2 separate regions of the Homo sapiens genome follow, and region 2 is reported to be linked to region 1. The links are microRNA targets in miRTarBase. Many come from high-throughput screens and were not tested one by one. Region 1 holds a microRNA gene; the other region holds the end of a gene's coding sequence.

The links. Region 1 holds the annotated microRNA hsa-miR-6080 (UCUAGUGCGGGCGUUCCCG, at 5,214-5,232, opposite strand). A microRNA usually pairs through its seed, bases 2 to 8, with sites in the 3' UTR of a target mRNA and lowers its output. Matches are read on the target gene's strand: a 7mer-m8 pairs with bases 2 to 8, a 7mer-A1 pairs with bases 2 to 7 and ends in A, and an 8mer does both.
Region 2: miRTarBase lists ADAM22 as a target of hsa-miR-6080. Seed matches in the 3' UTR shown: 7mer-m8 at 1,004-1,010.

Annotation. Positions count from the first base shown.
Region 1 is chr17:64,775,045-64,786,027 of GRCh38, reverse strand. It overlaps MIR6080 (microRNA 6080), which reads right to left and starts at 5,269; the gene lies at 5,204-5,269. It also overlaps the pseudogene ARHGAP27P1-BPTFP1-KPNA2P3, the pseudogene ARHGAP27P1 and the pseudogene PLEKHM1P1. RefSeq lists enhancers at 290-1,049, 6,892-7,560, 7,561-8,230 and silencers at 4,795-4,894, 5,663-5,712, 6,966-7,025, 7,186-7,405.
Region 2 is chr7:88,193,439-88,203,418 of GRCh38, reverse strand. ADAM22 (ADAM metallopeptidase domain 22) reads right to left here. Exons shown (of 32, transcript NM_001324418.2): 32 at 530-6,948. The coding sequence ends at 6,928. Among named protein-coding and RNA genes, the nearest start is that of SRI-AS1, 18 kb to the left of the region's middle.

The DNA of each region.
Region 1 (10,983 bases):
GAACATTAGTTCTTTTTTTATCGGTGTCCACTGGCCGGGATTCAGCCCTGAATGGGCCTGGGAGTGAGTTTTTAAAATTATACAGTCTTGGCCGGGTGCGGTGGCTCACGCCTGTAATCCCAGCACTTTGGGAGGCCGAGGCGAGTGAATCACTTCAGGTCAGGAGTTTGAGACCAGCCTGGCCAACATGGTGAAACCCCGTCTCCACTAAAAACACAAAAGTAAGCCAGGTGTGGTGGTGGGCACCTGTTATCCCAGCTACTTGGGAGGCTGAGGCAGGAGAATTGCTTGAATCTGGGAGGCAGAGGTTGCAGTGAGCCTCACACCAGTCTGGGCAACAGAGCAAGGCTCTGTCTCAAAAATAAATAAATAAATAAGTAAATGCTTTTTAAAATACAGGTAAGAAATCTTTAATGAATCTCAAGCAGCATTTATAAAAAATGCAGTAGGACAGAGAATATCAGTGTGCATTGTGTGACGTATGGGTAAGCACTGTTTCGAGAATCTCCTGTTCCGGGATGGAAAGGCACAGCGTGCGTGCATGGGTTACACAGTATGTCACAGCCATATCGTGGGTTCTGGTCAAAAGTGCTGGCCAGCGTGGCCACAGGTCAACCTCCAGCCCAGCCGGCACCAGCAGGTGTGCTGCTCTCTCCCCAGGTGTGCCAAGTGCAAGACCGTCTTCCACCAGAGCTGCCAGGCTGTGGTGAAGAAGGGCTGCCCCCGCTGTGCTCGCTGACGCAAGTACCAGCAACAGAACGTTTTCGCCTGATGCCCCTCTGCTGATCCCACTCTGAAGGCCGGGGGTGAGTGTGGCTCAGCCATCCCAGCTGGGTTTCCTATCAGCCCAGGATACTCACCGTGTCACAGCTGTGTCCCCTTGTCAGGAAGACCTCAGATGTGACCAGAGCACTGGCCTCCTACAGAAAGCCCAGGAAGTCCCCATGATGTCCCCTGGCCCTCCCCCCACCCCTCTGCTGCAGGAGGCGTGGCCACCACCAGATGCTCCCTGTCTGGGGCAGGCAGGGCCGTTTACTCACCAGGCCCTGGCTCACCAGCGTCCCGGCGCCTCCGTTAGGGCTGGCCAAACACTGTGGAAAGGGGACTTGGGGAACATTTTCAATTCCACATTCCTGATTAAAAGGTCTGGTTTTTTAAGGTGGGTTTTTCCCATTCATATTTCAACAGAAAGTATTTTTTATTCTTGACCGTATGCGAGTCACCCATGAAATCCAGACATTTTCACCCCCAGCGGATGCACAGGAGCCTCTCAGGCCTGTCCTAGAGGCAGCGGGTGGCTGTTGGGCAGGCCACTGCTGGGACAGGGCCTGTGGGCCCACCCAGTGCCTTTCCTGGCCCTCACTGCCAGTGCCAAACCGCCCCTCAGCAGGGCAGGGCCAGTCCTGGTGACCCCACTTCCTCTCTGTCTCCTCTTTACTCCCCACCCCAGTGCGTCTCACCTGCTGAGCCCACCCCTTTCTCAGCGTCAGAGCCCCTAGCTCTTCTCTAGCCTGGGGCCTTGGCCCCATTAGGAGAAGGAGAAATGACTGGAAACCAGCACTTTCAGCACTATGAGCCCTCCTCGGTTTAGGGAGGGTCGCCGTCTTGCCCACCCCCAATCCCCGTGCCCTCCTCACCCCTCTACAGACAGGGGCACTGCTGCAGATGCTCCAGGCCCACCTTGGTGGGTGCCCGGGGTCACCCTCTCTGCCTGACTGACCCCTGCCAGGGCACAGATAGGCAGGACCCTAGAGACAGCAGGCAGCTGGGCCCTGCACTGTGGAGAAATGACCTGGTCCTTCGCCCTAAGCTGTGCAGGGCATGCGGGGGAGCTGCCCTGTGGATGCAGCCGCCGCCTCACAAAGCTATGAATTCCCAAAGCATCACTGAACTTGCCCAGCCAGGACACTGGAGACTGAAGAACTTCCCCGGAGCAGGACTGCCTTTGAAGGGGCCTTGGTGCTGGGGTGGGAGCCTGGAATTGTTTTTGAAGTGAAGTTCAGACCCTCCAGGCTTCAGGGAAATGTGGGTTTGCTGGTCTCTCTGTCGCCTTCTCCCACCTCTCCTGGACCCAGCGGGCCCTCAGTCCTAGCTGTCTTACCTGCGCTCAGCTTGGAGTCTGAGGCCTCAGGTGGAGATCCACCTGTCACTGTCAGAGATGAGCCCACCCCCACCCCTCCCTGGGGGTGATCAGCTGCTGAGTCACCCACCCAGCTTTGGAGCTGGATGCCTGTGCAGAACAGAGGTGGCGGTGGCAGGCAGGTGGAGGCTGTGCATAGCTTCTCCCGGTCATGGCGCACACCTGTGCCCAGATGCCAATACCTCCTAAGCCAGGAGCTGGGTTATGCACCTGCCATGACCACAAGCCTGGCCTGGTCAGAGCCCTCATTGCCCCATCCCTGAGTGGGCAGGAGTCTGGCCTGGGGAGGGCTTAGGCCTGTGAGGATTCTTCCCGAAGGCGCCCTTGGAAACAGACTAATTCTCAGGGAAATCAGATTGCGGTAAAATGGGATGGAAACAGACAACATTCAGATCTGCGATTTCCTGTCCTTGAAGGCCCCTTTCAGATTACAAGTTGGCACCCTCTGCCCATCTAGGTGCCACAGCTTCCCCCAAGGACAATAGATGGTAGGGCCAGAGAAGAGAAGAGAAACTGGGGGAGGGAGGCCCAGTGGAGGGCCATGGCACATGACCTGGTTCTGCCCTGCCAGTGGGCTCAGCCCCTCTCCATCCTCAGCCAAGCGCCTCTGAGGGCACTTGTTTCCCCTTCTCACCCATGTTTTTTTGAGACGGAGTCACTCTGTCACCCAGGCTGGAGTGCAGTGGTGTGATCTCGACTCACTGCAACCTCCGCCTCCCAGGTTCAAGCAATTCTCTTGCCTCAGCCTCCCGAGTAGCTGGGACTTCCCCTTCTCTTCTGCCTGAAGGAGGACGGGTGGTTTGGAGATTCCAGTCCAAACCCCAAGAGCTCATCACATAATAAAAGTGTCATAATAGCTGATATAGGCAGGCACTGTGGCTCACGCCTGTAATCCCAGCATTTTGGGAGGCCGAGGCAGTCAGATCATTTGAGGTCAGGAGTTCAAGACCAGCCTGGCCAATATAGAGAAACCCCGTCTCTGCAGAAATACAAAAATTAGCTGGGCATGATGGTGGGTGCCTGTAATCACACCTACTCAGGAAGCTGAGGCAGGAGAATCACTTCAACCCAGAGACAGAGGTTGCAGTGAGCCGAGATTGTGCCACTGCACTCCAGCCTGGGCGACAGAGCCAGACTCCATCTCAAAAAAAAAAAAAAAAAAAAAAATAGCTGATATATGGTGTACGCTGGGCATGTGGTAAGCACTGCTTAGTGGATCTCATTTAATCTTCCCAATAATCCAGTGAAGTGGGTGTTACTATTGATAGGAAAGAAAGCTGAGCTGCAGAGATAAGGCAGAACTCCCAAGGCCTACCAGCCGCCAAGCAGCAGAGTGGGGCATCATACCTGCCTGACCCCACGCAAAGACCATCACCACTGCCAGCCGCTGCCTGGCTGTGCTGCAGGTGGGGAGAGACCTAAAAGGTAGGGAGGGAGAGAAGATTCCTCCAGTCACTATTTTCTAAGCATGTCGGGCACCAAAGACCAATGCTGAGTTCTGCTGTGTGCCCACCCTGGAGGGTCCCAAAGTGCCACCAGGCCTCAGACACACTGAGATTCTCAGAGGAAGTGTAGACTCACGGGTGGGCAACGCCTAGCAGGGGCAAAGATACAGAGGTAAGGGAGTTCCAGAACGAGTGTGGCCAGATTCAGCTTCCCATCCAACCCTGGGCCCCCAGGAGGTGGAGTCAAGAGGGGCCATGGCCTGGGGTGTGGGCTTCTCTTCGTCCCAGAACACTGGCCTGAATCAGCCAGCTCTCCGCACACACAGCCACGTCCATAGGCACAACTGTTTCTGGGGGCCCCTGAGGGCAGGGGGTCTGCTAGGGCTGTGGTTTGTGACGTGTGGAGTGAGCGCAGGCTCAGATCAGGGCGAGGCAGCTTGTCCAGAGAGGCAGATAATTCCCAAACAGAAGACCCCCAAGGCGGAGGGCCCTGGGGCTGGACTCCTGGCCCCCAGGAGGTTGTTCTGAGCTTACCCTGTGGACGGATTGGAGGGTGGACCTCTTTCCCCGCAAGGGTCAAGAGGGAGTGGGGGATGGTGGGAAGGCAATCTGGCCAGGAGAAGCTGCGCGGGAGACTCCCGCCATCCCCAGTCCCACCATCTCAGCCCCGCGGCCTCTTCCTCCCTGGAGACAGCCAGGATCCCGGGAGTGGCCCAGGATCCCGGGAAATGCAGGGGAGGGGGTGGCATCTTTCCTCTTCAGGCGCGGGCCTGGCCCAGAGGCGACAGGAAGCCAGGACGCCGGGGATTGTCTCTCGCAACCGCAGCCCAGCCCCAGTCCGGGAGGAAGTTCTGCCGGGCGCTCTCCGCCGGTGCCTCACTGGTTATAGTGCTATACAGGAAACCTGGCAGCGCCGGAGCCGCGCGGTCGAGGAGGGAGCGCGGGACGCCGAGCCCACGCGCGCCTGCCGGGACAAGTGGAGACGAGGCCGGCGAGCGGACGCCCCGAGGTGCCCGGGCAGGCAGTGGGCCGCCGAGCGGGAGTTGAGGTGGGAGGTGGGGTGGGGGTGGGGAAAGGGGCAGGGTTGGGGAGGGAAGGGTGCGGCAGGTGGCGGGTCCGCACCCGGGAGCTCCGCGCGCCTGCTCCCCTTGTCTCCGTGCTGGGGCGGGAGCTGCTCGGGCCGCATCCCACGGGGAGGAGAAGGTAGGCGAAGGGCTGCCCTCCCTCTGGAGGCGGGTGGGGAGCAGGCCCAGGCCCCTAGCGCCGACCCAGGCGTTGACGCCGCTGTAGCTTGCGTCGCCTGGGCAGTGGACGCAGGGGACCTCCTGGCGACGGGTGCGCTCTCGCGCTCCAGGGATCCTCTCGGCCCCCACCAATCCCTCCCCTTCTCTGTGTTCCCGCAGGTTGGCGAAGGAGCTGTGGCCGGGTCCCCTTCTTATCCAGCCCGAGACACTGCGCTCCGGTGGGCGTCCCTGCGCTGGGAATCCCTCTCGGAGTTTTTCCAGGCCCGGCCGGGTTGCTCCGGGAAAGGCCCTGTTGGGGGAGGTGGGCCCGGAGCTGGCAGGTCTACAATCCGGTTGGAAGGGCTCGCAGTGGGTGATTCAGGGTGCCAATGACCTCCCCGCGAACGGGAACGCCCGCACTAGACAACCAGCCCCAGACCGGCATTCCCAGAGCCGCAGGCGGGAGGGACGCAGGGACTCCGGGACAGCAAATCCCCGGGGGAGAAGGGAAGGGGGAAGGCGGGACAGGGGAGGCCCACCCTCCTTGGGCTCCGCTAGCGACCAGCCAGCGCCCCTTCAGACGCAGCCTTCCTGGCTCCGGACCCCGGCTTTCTGCTCCGGTCCTCGTCCCAATGCCCCCCAAGGTCCCCAGCAGAGGCATTCAGGTTCCTCCTCGCCCCGCCCAGACGCAGCTTCTTTGGGTATGGGTGACAGCACTCCTGAGCGTCGCTGTCCCTATTCGCTGCCGTTGCCAGCTCCGATTCCGCGAAACCTCTCCGGCACCACCTCGGAAGCCCCGCCCAGGGCGATGGTCCGGGCCTAACCTGCCGGCCCCGCCCACCCGGCCCTTGGGCTCCCTGAGGCCCGCCCAGCAGACGTGAGTGCGCTGCGGGGTCCGGGGGGAAGGGGCGCCGGGGCAGTGTCCACCTTGGGGTTTGTTGGCTCTGGGCAGCTCGATGACCCCGCCTCCGGGGCCCAGTGTGCTTAGTGACTCAAGTGTATACCCTTTCCTAGTCGAGGAACGCTTGACAAAGTGGCGAAGGAGCCCTACGGGAGTCCCGGATTGGACCCTGCTCCTTCGGTCCCTCAGCCTCGGCAAGCCGCGGTCTCCTGGCCCTTGGCCTGGGTCACCTTAGGAGGCAGGAGGAGATGTGGTCAGTGTGGGAGCTTGGAGGGGCCATGCACTTCCGGAGAAGACCACCGACTCATGGCTTTGGTGGAGGGGCGCCGGCAGATTTAGTTAAGCTCTCCCCCATCCCTGACACACCCAGCCGGGGCGGGAGCGGGGCTTGTGACCACTCCGGAGAGCTTTGAGGGCCCCTGCTTTGGGACTCCGCACGGACAGTCACTGTCTCAGAGTGCATTCTCCAGGGGCCACTCTCTTGGGGACACTGTAGGGGTCACAGGGCAGGTGGGCAGCCTCTCTCGGGGGGCGGCGTGAGAGCCGGAGAGCAGGGGGCGGGGGCGGGCCCGGCTCGGGCTCACGTCTGCGTTGAAGCCGCTGGGGAAGGGGAGAGAAACCGAGAGAACCGGTTCCCCCGCCTTGACAGCGGAGGCCCCCACACCAAGGCCCTTGGACTAAGCGGGGCAGGGACAGCCTCCAGGTAGAGCTGTTCGCCGGGGCGCCTGCAGAGCCCGCATCCCAACCCTGACCCCGGGGCCGGGGCGCAGGCTCCTGGAGGGAGGCGTCCAGGCGGGACAGGGCCCGGGGAGCGGCAGGAAATGGGCTGCTCTTCCCACTTGACTGACGGGAAAACTAAGGCACGGTCAACTATCAAGCAAGCGTGGTGTCGACCTTAGAGCAGGTAATCACCCCTCGTTTTAAAGCCAAAGTTTCCCTCGCAGTCGATTTGGACCAAGACTACCCACAATCTCCCCACCGCAGGACTGAAGCGAGGCTGAAATCTTAGAATCAACCCCACGGAATGAAGAGGTTGTCCTAATTCCAGCACTGAGTGTAAGAATGGAAGCCTTGCATGTGATTTTATTCAAGTCCTCATTTTAGAAATGGGAAAACTGAGGCCCGAAGGCGAACGGCAAGTGCAGCATCGGGACTCGAACCCAAGTCTCTCCTCGAGTGCTGGGCTATTCCGGGCTCAGTGGTCTTGACTTCCGCGGCCCTCTTCCTTGTTGCCTGCAGGAAAATGCCGCGGCCGCAATGGCGGCGGATGTGGAGGGGGACGTGTACGTACTGGTGGAGCACCCCTTCGAGTACACCGGCAAGGACGGGCGCCGCGTGGCCATCCCGCCCAATGAGCGCTACCGGCCGCTGCGGCGCAGCACAGAGCACTGAGCATTGGTGGCACGTGCGGCGCAAGCCCGGCGGCCGCCCCTTCTACCTGCCCGCGCAGTACGTGCGCGAGCTGCCTGCGCTGGGCAACCCTGCCGCTGACGCGCCGCCAGGTCCCCCCATCGGGACCCGCAGCCCCTGAGCCGCTCGCCTACGACTACCGGTTCGTGAGCGCGGCTGTGGCAGCGGCCCCCAACGGCCCCCCAGCGGAGCCCCGAGGCGGGGCCAGCTCCCTGTGCGGCCCTGCGCAGCGCGGCGCCGCGAGCCAGCGCAGCAGCCTGGCGCCCGGCCTGCCCGCCTGCCTGTACCTGCGGCCCACGGCGCCCGTGCGGCCCGCGCAGTCCCTGGACGACCTGACGCGCGCCGTCGTCTCGCCTCCCGCCGGCAACCTCGGAAGCAGCGGCAGCTTCAAGGCCTGCAGCGTAGCGGGCTCCTGGGTGTGCCTGCTGCCCCTGTCGCGCAGCGACTCAGAGAACGTCTAAGAGGCCATCCAGGAGGTACGCGGCCCGCCGCGGTAGGAGATCGTGAAGCAGGTACGACCCCGGGCGCGGAGGCGGGGAGGCTCGCTGAGGACAGCGCCCGCAGGGAGCCTGGGCTCGAGGAGACCCACTCCGCTCAGCGTCGGGCATGACGCCCACCTCTGTCGGAAGACTTCGGATGAGCTCCCTCTCCCCAGCCGCGAAACAGTGCAGGCCCCCATCCCTCATCTGCAATTTCCAGGCTCCAAAGCTCCCTGGAAGCCCGAAAGATTTTTCGTAATCAAATTGGTGGCAAAATTGCGCTTGAACTGATATGAGGCTGTTGATGGTCTTTATTTATCGCACTTGTGTGAATATTCATGTTTTGCTGCAGAAATGCAAATAAGCTCGATGGCCGGCTGCTGCCCCAAGCCCTGCTGGGAGGTTATGTAACCTACAGCAGGTGGGTGCCACATATTATCTTTCCAAGTCCCAGCTGTTCTATATTCCGAAGTGCATCTGGGCACGGAACGGGGGATTGCGGGCCTGCCGCCAGCTCAAGGAGCCTGGAGTCAGATGAGAGGGTGGATGTGAAAGTCAGGCGTCTGCTTCCCTTTGAGGGTGCTTCCAGCATTTCAGTTCCTTTTTTTTTTTTTTTTTTTTTTAAAAGAACTCCTGATGGGTTTGTTTCAGAAAGACGTGTTAAGTGAGGTTGTTTTTTCCCCTCTTCAGAATCCAGTTGTGTTAATCTGGGAAATCGAAAATAGAGCACGTTTTACAAACACTCTTGCATCCTCAGAACACTCTGGGGGACTCTGACATTTTGAACTTTAGGAACTTTTCAGGGAGGGGCAGCCCGAGGGGGAGAAAAGGATGCTTAGAACCGTTCTGCCATCTGCCACCGGCCGTGTGATGATCTAGAGGCAGCTCTCTTCCTCTCTCAGGGTCTCGGTTTGTTCTTTAGCACAAAGGGAGGGGATGGACAGATGACCTCTGAACCTTGGGAGCCTCTGATTTATTTCGCTGTGCCTGATGTCATTACCATGAACACTGATGCCCACCATGTGCCAGGACTGAGTCCGGGATGCCCAGACGAAGGAGACACGCCTCCGTAGGCCCGCTGCTGGGTGTTCCCTCCGCCTGTCTCGTTACAATGCAGAGCTCAGGTTTTGAGACTAGGGAAAGGGGAACTGGATTTTGCTGGGGCAGCTGCCAGCTGCTGACAGCCACTTAACTTACAAGCGAGGACCACCCCCTCCCCCCCCAGGCCCAGCGTCCTCTGGTGTAAGCACAATACCTAAGGATTAGGGTTGTGAGCCTTAAATGAATTAAGGCTTCGAAGCGCTTGGCAGCAGCAGGGGGTCCACCCAGACTGGGTCATCCTCGTTTGGCTTCCCTGGGTCTGCGCCGCCTTCACTCTGGCTCCTGCAGCGGCAGCCCGCCGCCTTGTGGCCAGGGTGGAAAACGGCACCCGGCGGGCGGGGCTGGAGACCGCGGCTGGTTCCTGTTTCGCGCCCCTGCCAGCCAGCCAGGCAGCTTCTCTGGGATGGGTGGCTGGATGCCAGCGCTCTTCCCCCGCAGCGCCCCTCCGTTTCCTGCGCAGGCTCCCGGTGGCGCACTTCCCGGCCTCTCCACATTCTCTGTCCTAGTGACGGTGGGACGGTGCCTGCCCGTCTGAGCGGAGCCCCTGGAGGTGGGGGAATGGCCTTGCTCTTTGAACCTCGCATCTGGCCCAGGGTCTGGCTCAGACAGAGTGCACAGAGAGTGTATGTTGAATAGGGCGGAGGTGCGGCAGCCCCTTACCTATGAGCCAGGCCTCTGTAGGTCTGCCCAAGGGCCACCACCCCAGGCCCCAGGACCAAAGAGGAAGGAGACTGCCCAGGTCCTGACATCTCCTGAGAAGACAGATCACCCCGGCTGCCAGGGCGCCTGCCAGGTGGCCCCTCTGCCCATCCTTCCTCCAGCTCCCAGCAGGTTCCCAGTTGCAGTGGCATATGGGGGGAGGGGCACAGGTGATGAGGGCAGGGGACTTACCCAGGGGGGAACTAGGACATTGGCCAGAGACAGGCTGCTCCCTGGCCCCACTTGTGGCCCTAATTCACTATGTGACCTCCACAAGTCACTTTGCGTCTCTGGTTCAGTTTCCTCCCCTGTGCAATGAGTGCAATAATACCACGTTCCCTGCCACGGAGCTTTATTCAAGAGGCAGCTGTGGCTCTCCCTGGTGCTCCACCCCCAACAAAGTCCAGGGTAGGGAGTTGGTCCTGCCCCCACAAGGGAACCCCACCCCTGCCCTTAGTTGTCCCAGGCGGCATTTCCCCACCATAATCCTCCAGGCCCATTCACTCGTTCATTAGGCATGAACTAGCCAAATAGCTGCAGAGCCCTGGTGAGCCTTTGGATCTAGAGAGGACTCAGGCACAGCCACGGTCCTGGGGGACTCACCCTCTTGGATAGGAGGCCAGCAACAGAAGACATGGGGCCGGGGCTCAGAGTGGAGCATGGGGTTGAGAGTGGGTGCCCACCGGGGCAGGGCCTCATGAGCCCTTGCCAGGAATGTGCACGTTATCCTGCAGCTGCTGTGAGGCTTTTAGCAGAGACAGGAATGGGATTGAGAAAAAAATCCCTGTGGCCAGGGCCTCAAGAATGGCCGAAGCTCTTGGTGGTCTCGTGGGCATGTGGTGGTAACAGAGGTTTGGGAGATGGATGGGCAGGGTCTGGGGGCCGAGGGAGGTGGGAGGGAAATCGGGTTGAGTTCAGATTCCCAGCTGGCACTTGTGGGCAGACAGTGGTGCTGCTTACTGAGTTGGGGGGTGGGGGGGACTTGGGGAGGAGCAGGGTGGAGAAAGGTGGGGCCTGCCTGGATTTAGGTGCCAGACAAAGGGAAGAGAAGCATGAGAGTGCTGGCTCAGAGGACAAGAAGTGTCCAGAAGAAAGATGCACAGGAAGGTGACGTGAGAGAAAGGCCATATAACACTTATCCGAAGTGGCCACTAGAAGCTCAGCTGGTCAGGGGGGTGCTGAAGGCAGAGGGCAGTGGTCAGGAGTGAAGTGAGGGTGCGAATTGAGTGTGTAGACAACAGACAGAAGGAGAGAGAGAGACACAGCGTGGCCAGAGGGGGTGTAGGTCATAGATGGAAACATCCCCAGGTTCAGGTGGGTGGGCAGGAGATGGGGAGGCTGAAGATGGGGAGGAGATTGTTGCTGAGAAGGGATCTCGGAAGAAAGTGGGTGCAGAACAGAGGGGGCAGGATGTGGGGATGGCATGGCACGGGGGCACTGGGGAGTGTATAGGGACCCCCGTCTGTCAGGCGGCAGCTCAGGGCTTAGGGCAGGCTACTGGGCAAGGCCAGGGACCCCCAGAACAGAGGAGTTCCTGCCATGGATGGTGTTTCACAGCCTTGTCACTCCCCATGCACTCTAATCG
Region 2 (9,980 bases), not on the chromosome of region 1:
TGACTTCCTTCTCTTTTTCTCACATTAAAACAATACCTTGACTACTTATAACTTATTAACTATGCAGCCTATGAACAGATGGCAAGGACCCCGCAAATGCCAGAATAATGACGGGTAGGTAAAATGCCTGCCTGGAAGATGAAAAAGCCAGGGTGGAACAGTTTTTAGGCAATGAACTCATGAGCCCATCCTAGGCTCAGTGCTTTAGAATGCAGCACAGGTGACCTTATTAACTAAGCACCACTGCCTGGTCTACAGGACAGGATATAGGAAATTGATCCTCATTAGGGTGAGAGAGGAAGTGCTTACAAGGAGAGGCAAATAGATAAATAAGTAAACTACCTCTGCCATCCAGATGAGGAAACTGCAACAAATCGAGCACTCAGGCTTTGCTAAAGGGTTGTATTTCTCATCATGTTAGTGACCCCTTCTGGGACACCAGTGAACAGGAAAGAAACAATCCCTTGACTGTACCCCTAACAAAGCTTCTGAAAGAGAAACTAGCTGGGAGAAAAAGAAGAGTCGTGCATCAAAATAACATAAATCTTTTATTGAAAGTCACTTTACTAATGTTACAATGGGAGTAACATAGAAAACCATGGTATCTTATTAGCTTCCGAAGTGAATACTAATAAAACTGTGCCAGAAATTTGAACCTTAAGTTACAGTGACCTTTAAAAACATCAAGATTTTGTTTACCTACAATGTAAGAACAATTTTATAACTTGAACAGCCATAAAACAAATCACACTTGCTCAGGAAAGCAGTTGCCATATACATTTCCATTGGTGTTTGCCATAACCCCAGTAATTATTAAAATAGCTTAACGAACCTGAAGTGCAGAGTAGCAGAGAAATGTTAAAATAATGCGAATCTAAGTATATACACATGATTACCTGATTACCAAAAGTGAAACCATGCTGCTATTAACACCTCCTCATGGGGTGGCTTCCACTATCTATAGATGCACATCACCTGTCAAAGGTGATAACCGTGGAAAACACTAGTGCCGACCTACTGCTGGCTAACATGTAAGCTACTATGTTTAGGTAAAACACCCCGTTTCTGAAAGAAGTTGTCTTTTGGGGGTGCTAGTTTGGAGGGGCAAGTCTTCCAGCAAGTTAAAAAAGGAGTACATGCTTATCTATCCTGAATAAGCCTTTTTTTAAAGCAGTTTTGCAGTTAGTGTAAAAAAAAAAGTTTTCCATACAAAACAAAGGTGTTGAGTCATTTTTGCCCTTTAAAAAGACTGGTTGTAGAATCAGAGTTTGATTTTGTGCTGGATTAGAAAAGAAAAGTGGGGTTTCTAGTCAGGCAGTGATACACATATATAATTTAGCAGGAACTTTTGTATTATTACTAAGTATTCATATCAGCATTTTCTGTATTGTGTTACTTGTTCAACTTAGCACCGCTATATTTAAAGATTGGGGCTATTTGCATTATTTTAGAGCTTAGCCATCCAACACAAATCACAGCCTGAAAATTCATAAAATAAGAGGCTAAGCCCTAAGGTGAATGCAGATCAGAATATTATATATATATAACATTTTTTACAAGAAAGGAAAATACCTTTTCTTCATAAACTCTTTGAAACTTTATTGATGATTCTGTATGTGCATTATCTTAAGAATTCGTCTCATTGTATGCCTTTTTGTAAAACAAAACCAAAAACACACATATTGCCTGGTTTTGATTTCAAGGATACGTAGGAACATGGAATGATGATTACTTGATGAAAAGCCTGCCAGCCTTGAAGCTTCCCCATATGATACAGGTTTTATGAACAGTGCAACAGGGATGCATCAGGCAGGAGTGACTGGCCTATTATGGACTGGACCACAAAGTATTCAGAGTCAACACTCAGTCAATCTGCCAAGCACAGAAGTCTGTCTTAGGCATCCAGCACCTCTCTTCCCACCACACCCCTTGTGACAATGTGTGCTCTCCTGCATATCTGGCCTCAGGAATCTTCCTGTGAATATCCATTCTGTGTCTATGCCAGGACTAAATGCCCCATGGTCTCCCAAAGTTCTCTGCTTCTTATCTCCTCCCCATCCTGAAATTCAGGCTTTTAGGACTCATCTCCCAGTGACTTCCTAAGTTGCATAAGCTGCTAATGTGCCAGTGGGTGAAGATAAAGATGCCTGCCACCTCTACTCCCTAGAGCATCCTAGGGATATAAAGGACAAAAGTACTAATTAGGTTTTTGGTTTTGAATGTTTTGTTTTTCTGCTTACAAACAACCAGAAGTTGCTCCATTTGCGGGACTAACAAAGCAATGAATAAAATGTCAGTAGAAACACTCCTGTTTTCTAAAGTCCTGCTGCATCTTTGTTCTGCATCCGCAGATGTGGGAGAAAAGCTCCTCTTGGAATTAAAAGCACCTCCCCCACAGAGCATATGCTATGAGCATGTGCCAACAATTCCCAGCAGGTGTACTTTTAACAGCGGGGCTACTCACACACAGCTGGGATGGGCTGCTGCCGCTCAGCCAATTTTCACAAGAGCAGACTGGGCCCCTCATTATATTATACTATCAATGGGAAACTGTTTATCAAAGTCCTTAGTTCTTCCATGCCAGGAGAAAAGTTGCTGCATCCAAAACCAGAGTAGTCTTATCCATTCAAAAACATCTCAGGAGGAAAACAAAACATTTGAGCCCCAAATTAAGCCCTATTCCACGGAAGTGTTTACTTCTTATACATCTTAAACTGTAGAGCAAGAATGAGAAATTTATCTTGACTCCATACATTTAACGGAGTGGAAAGGTATTTAGGTGGCAGTTTTAGAAAAAAACATAAAAGTGAAAGGAAAAATATAATTAGGTGCATAAAAAGTAGATATGATGCTGCAAATGGCAGTCAAGTGTTTCATGGAAAATTCATGCCAACTTACCAACTGGTAGGGTGATATTTACAACACGCTGCCCATGTGGGCATCCAGTGGCAGCAGCCAGATGTGTCCTATCAGACTGTGCAGGCAGCTGTCTTGTCCCTCCTCGCTCCTGCCAGTTCCTAACTTGGCTCTCCCCTTCCATATACTCTACAAGCTACTCAATATCCTGCCAATAAATTCTCTTTCCTTTAAGTAAAATAAAGTAAAATAATCTTTTCTTTAGATAAGAATTTATTATTGTGTTAAATAATAACATAAGAAAATATTTAAAGTACTATATATATGGTTAGAACTATACGACAATAGGAAATGAATGGATAAAATGAATAAATGAACAAACCTTATTTTAAAACACTGAAAAAAGTGAATAAAAATACCATATATCTTCTGGTCCGAAGGTAACTGTAAAACATAAAGAACAAAATCCCAAAAAAGGTAACAGGTAAAGTAGCCACAAGAGATCTGGGACAATAGACAGGATTAAATTATGTAGATATGCAAGGGAATCAATAGAAAAGAAATGTAAGCCTGTTATGAAATTCAAACATAAATAGTCCTTCTCTGAAAGTGCAGAGAATATCCAATTTTGTCTTTCTGACAACTTCTTTAGAAATCCTATTAATGTTACTTTCAGAAATTCTATGCCAGACTGACCTTATATACAAACACAATTTTAAAATTCTTTTTAAAGTAACAGGGAAAAGAGAGAGAAACTATGGTATCACTTAATAAAGCACCAATATCAAAGTGAAAAATAAGTTGGCATTTTAAACCCACATTTGCTTTATTCATCAACATTTTTTAAAGGAACAACTCTAATGATAGGTTATTCCTAATCGAAGCTCCGGGTGTCTTGTTAAAAATACAGCAACCACAGCAAATTGAAAGCCCTCACCATGTTGCACTGTCCGATGTATTCCTTTCCACAGATTGCATGTGCCCTGGGGATCATTTCCAGCCTGCAGCGTTCAGAGGACCATGCCACTTCCCATCTAAATAAAGAGTGGCTGGAGGACAGTTCATGTGGCCAGTCCACTCCATAAGGACTCTCTTCTATCCCATGCCTTCCTGTTCACACTTACTGGAGAGACTTAAATGTTCCTTTAAATCAGGGTTTACTGCACTGCAATGACTATGGATAAATGGAACTTCTCAGGCAGCAGGGTGCCAATCTGTAGTCTTATCAATGCATAAAACTGGAAGAGGGGAAAAAGGCATACAATGGAACATAAAGGCCAAATAACTGCTCTCTTCTGCTTAGCAATGATTTTGTAGTGGATTGGGAAATATAAATATTAGTTGCATGATATAAACTGTGATACGGCCTCAAAGTTTCTCTCCAAAATAGATATTTAAAGAGAAATAATGCTGTGCTTGTATATTTAATGCTACCTACCTCGGTGGATGAAAAGTCATAAATATTTAGATGTAATGCCTCTAGAACCCCAACCATGAGTATACATATAGATACTTCTTGAAACTCTCCCTTGAGACTATAAATTTGTCAATGAATCCCACAAATGGCTCTAAGAATGTTTAAACATGGGAGATAGAGTAGATTCCAAGAATAGAACATTAAAGTTACTGTATACCTCAAATCATAATCTCTACAAATAAAACAAAAATTTTTAGTCAGTTCCACAGGAAGGTTATTACCAAGGCGGGTAATTACAAACTATATACCTCTAGAGAAACCATGTCTCCCAAAAGGCACATGATCATGATTTTCATTTGAAATAATAATTTCATGTAAAAATAGGTGAGGGAAGAAAGACACACAGACGAATGATAGAGATCTGTTAACTTCTCAGCTAGCCATTTGTGGATTCTTTCAAATTAGAGTTTGTGTACCTGTAACTAGGAAGCATATTTACATGAGGCACCTTATATTCAAATCTATAAACTCTTTTATAGTCAAAATAAACCTTATAGCATTAGCCTTTTGTACACTCAGTACCAGGAAACATTCAGTGCACGTTACAGTGATCTTGGTAAAAAGTCACTTTATTTGCTACATCTTTCAATCTGTCTGCCCTTCTGTTCTTGGCTTGAGCTATGTGGCAACACTGCCCAACACTCACCCAAACCTTGGCCTGATGGATCGCTTTATGGTCATATCAACAATCACATCCCTTCCTGTCATGAAAAATGCTGTTTTACATTATGTAATTTTGGATCATTAAATTGCTTTCCAAACATTTCAAAGACTTTCAAAAGAGAGGTCCATTACAGAAGACATAAACACACAGTATAAAATGCTGCCTTCTAACTCGGCCCTTCAGTTTGGGCATGATATGTAATCAAATTGATTACATATGAAGATGATATGGATTTTGTCCATGGATACTATGGGAGAGGATCAAATTTAAGAGAGTATATCTGAAAACCTGTCTGCAGATTCCATTCCTCTTAAGAACACACAGCAAATGAGGAAATCAGAAGTATACTTCAGAGCAGACCATGTGATTGAGCCCATCAATCTCCAGCCTCACTAGGGTAGCTAGCTTTCTTTTGGAATGACAGATCTGCCATTATAACAGCTATCAAACTTTGGTTTTAAAGAAGGGTCTTTTAAAATAGAATCTTATTTTCCTATGGATTAAAAATATATGTTTCAAAGCATCAGATTCTTTCCCCCACCAGCTGTTAGTGTAACTTCGCAGATGCTGCATCTCTGTGGTTTAGATCTAACTTAACCCTTTATGAATGGTTGAAGCTGCTCAACTCAAACAGTAGAATCTTCCGTCATCTTGCTTCAGAGTCAGTGCAGAATGACTTGTTGGGATTCACATCCCAGTGATGACAAATATTCTTAATCAACAGTGTCAAAGTTGTTTTTGTTAAAACAAGTCATTCATTTCACAGATAAGGGTGACTACAAAGTTTTGCCAAGGAACAAAACTTCAGGCCACAAAGGGTTAGAGTATTGGCAAACCAGAAGCTACCAGCTCACTGGCAGTACGTTGTCTCATGTGTCTTTGGTGCACTTGCTTAATCTCAGCAGCACACACTGCTGAGGGGCTGGCTCACTGGGATGAGATGGGATGGACGGATGGGATAGATGATTTCCAGGGAGCAGCCCATCGGCAGCAGAGTGGGCTCCTGCATCAGCAAACTGTGGAGGCCAGAAGTTTTGCTGGGCATTTTGTTCTCTCACTCAACTACTCACTCAATAAAACTGCCTCCAGACTGTGCACAGGTTAAAGGGATATCACATGTTTTGGACAAATACGAATTATGGAGAGACACATTTACAGCATTGACCACTATATTTACATTACCTGCTTATAGTCTTTGAAGATCACTGGATGGATGACGATGATGTGATTGTGACGGAATTTTTAGGCATTTGGCAAAATACACTTGTGTGTAACAGCTGCATTTTTTTAAAATTTTAAAAATGTTACATATATACAATTGTCCTTGTATGCTAATATAAATATGAAAAGTAAAAAACAAAACAAAAATAAAAATACATGTTTAAAGTTAGCCTATGGGATATTGGCCTTTCAAAGCTTTAAAGTCCTGCAGAAAAATCCTATATGCCTTAGCCCTGCATGCTCATTTCTATTATGGGATGTTGTTTCCTTAAATATGGAAAACAATAAACAGAAGCTTCATGCATATAGCATTACTGTTTACAGTGAGGATGTGCCTCAGAACGTCAAGTTCTGAATCCACTATTGTACCTTAGGAAACTTGCTACATTTGGGTCATGTGAGTTAACTTTATGAATATTTCTACATATTATCTGTCATGCGGATTATCCATTAACATACCAGTACCTTTATTGTTCCATGTTATAGTGTAATATTTCAGTAGTTCTTTTCATGGTTAGTTAAATCCTAAGCCAATGACAAAAAGAAAATGGTAACCAGATGTGAAACTCCGCTTCCTCTCCTCTGTAGCATCTCAGAGGGTCTTCGTATTGTCTGAAGAGCAGATAGATTTGCAGTGATTCCATGAGCCTGGGTTTCTATAAAAGTTGAAGTAAACAGTTTTCGATGTATCACATGTAAACAGTTGATCTTAAATGGATGTCTCCCATAGCTGCACAACAGAAAAGAGCAAAATTGCACATTGTGAAAGCAGGAAGCAGATGTATTCTGAATAGGAGATGAAAAAGATTCAGTGATTCCATCCATATATATGTGATTGTGGATGCACACTCTTGCAAAGTCTAAAAAGTGGATAGAATAAACACTCCAACTTTTAGCTCTCTGTTTCCTCAAAACCTGTGTCTCAACCTTTTTAACAGCAGCCATCTTTTGATACAAAAACCATCACATCCTCATTTAATGTTACTAAACATTTTGAATAGAGTCAATATTGTGTCTCAAATGAAATAAAAGAATTTAAAATATTATTTTTTAAGCTACACATGCCCTTCCTTTCCCCAGGATTCTGAGACAGCCAGCTAGAGCAGTGGTTCTCAACCTCAGCTGCACATTACATTAATCTGGGGAGGTTTCTACAATTCCACTTCCCAGGCACCACACCAGACCAACTAAATCAAAATCTCTCTGGGTGGGACTCAGGCGTAAGAATATTTTAAAAGCTTTGCAGATGATTCCCTTGTGCAGCCACGACAGAAAACCACTGACATCAGGGAAGTGTGATTCCATCAATTCCACCATCACCCACTTGAAAATCACTGCCATACACTCCACTTCTATCACTACCTCCTTAAAAAATAGTTCTCTCAGCCGGGCGTGGTGGCTCACGCCTGTAATCCCAGCACTTTGGGAGGCCGAGATGGGCAGATCACGAGGTCAGGAGATCGAGACCATCCTGCATAACACGGTGAAACCCCGTCTTTACTAAAAATACAAAAAAAATTAGCCGGGCGTGGTGGCGGGCACCTGTAGTCCCAGCTACTCGGGAGGCTGAGGCAGGAGAATGGCGTGAACCCGGGAGGCGGAGCTTGCAGTGAGCCGAGATCGCGACATTGCACTATAGCCTGGGCGACTGAGCGAGACTCCATCTCAAATAAAATAAAATAAAATAAAATAAATAAAAGGTTCTCTCTCACAAGCTGAGGTATCACAGTGGAAGGATACATTCAAGGCAGGATGTCCCTTCATTCATTCTGTCCCTCTTACCCTCTCCTTGCTTTTGCCATGAGCTCTTTATATTGGCCCTGTTCCGGTCAAATTTCTACAATGTTCAGCAATCACCTTAATGGACTAATAACAAGTGTGACATGATCAGATATGAATGCAACTCAGTTCACCAGAAAAGGAAGACCAATTTAAAAAGAAGATCAAGCTGATGAAATATGTTTCCAGGCAATAGAATTTAGATATAATTATTATAAACATAAACAAATAAAGCCTATGAACACAGTGACTTAGGTTGTATCCAATTCCATCCAAATTCCATTTTTACTGGACATTTGGTGCATGTCGCTGTATATATAATGAGTTTCTGGGAAAGAAAAAGGAGAAAAAGCCAAGTGAGTAAGTAGATGTTTCTATATAGGTTCCCTTAATATGTTCTCCCAAATCTTCATGGAAATCTTGTTCTGAATGCCCATGTCTGCCTACTCCACAGGACTGTGGTAAAGCCACCATGCTATCTACCTTAGGTCATTTTATATGCCCTTTTTATTGAAAAGACACCAACCCCTTGTAAACCACAGGAATATCTGAACTGTGAGGATCTTCGTGAATGGGTGACACTGGTGGTGGAGAGGAGTTAAATGGGGCTTGTGGTGGGTCTGGAGCAAAGACGATCTGAACTGATGCTCAGATAATGGTCTGGAGGGCTAAAGGGATTAGACTCTGGCCTCAGAGAGCTGAAGTTTCCTCAATATTGTTTTATAAAGATTAAAAATAATATGTGACAGGAGAAAGAAGGGAGGGACAAATGAACAACATTGGGAAAAACCTGAATGTCATGATTACTCCAGTGAGAAAAAATGAGCAATTGCCAAACATCACTTTCAGCACTAGGCATGCCTTGGCCCACGTCTATGTGGTGGTAACAGAGGGGCTGCTGATAGGAAGATCTGCTTGTTCCACTCTCCACAGCCCACAGAGACAGCCCAGAGACAGGGGCTGTGTATTTGGTAGGATTCTGCCACATGCTTATGTGGCTGTTCCACAGTGCATAGAACAAATCAGACTTTTCAGGTAACAATCCCAGCAGCCAGAGCCTTTGTGGTCACCTGCTCAGCCCAGGGCCAGTCATTTTTTCTAGGGAGCTATCATTTTTACAGGCTCTTGTGTGGTAACATCTCCAATAACCCAAACTCTGACATGACAACAGCTGAGGGAATGTCCCTAACTTGATGGAACAAAACAGGGATGCAGACAATTTAGCAGAAAGTGGGTTGCTACACTTAGACAATTATTTGAGGAGGGCAGGAATGACCTCAGTCTCAGATTTCATTATCACACATGACATCATGAACAACTAGGTATCTATCAAGAAGTCTTTTGTTAATTCAGAAAGCTGAGTGCTGGGAATCTGAATTGTCTTGTTATCTTTTACCATTTCTCATATTAACATATAATGGTAATTTTTTATGATTAACAAAACACTGCTGGTAGTTTTTAAAGACTTTTGGATTATAGTGATCTACACAGCTTTTAATTATTTGTGCCTTCTTACTGACTCTGAGTTAAAATTAAAATTTGAATGATCCACGTTTACCTTGAATCACATAATTTAGGTTTGGGATCAAAGAGATTCCGAAACATCTCTGAAGACCAAAGAGTCTAACCAGCAGCTAAAGCTGCCGAGGCTTATAAGCTTTATTTTATTTTTTTGCAACATTATTTCTAAGAAGATGAACATTACAGTGTAAATGACCACAACAGAGCCTGGACATCAATAAAGGTAATTATTCTTTGGTTACATCTTTCACTTAAGTCTCTGAGGACCAGTCTGCCTCTCTAAGCTCCACTGTATCTCGAATTTCACATACTGATATGTTTCAGGAATGTTGTGAGACAGTGGCAGTGTGATTAAAATGTAAAAGGTGATATAGCAAAATACACTGTTTTGTTTACTGTAGGTTTTAATAAATTAGCTACAATAATTAAATATATAGCAATTAATTACACAAAATGTACCTA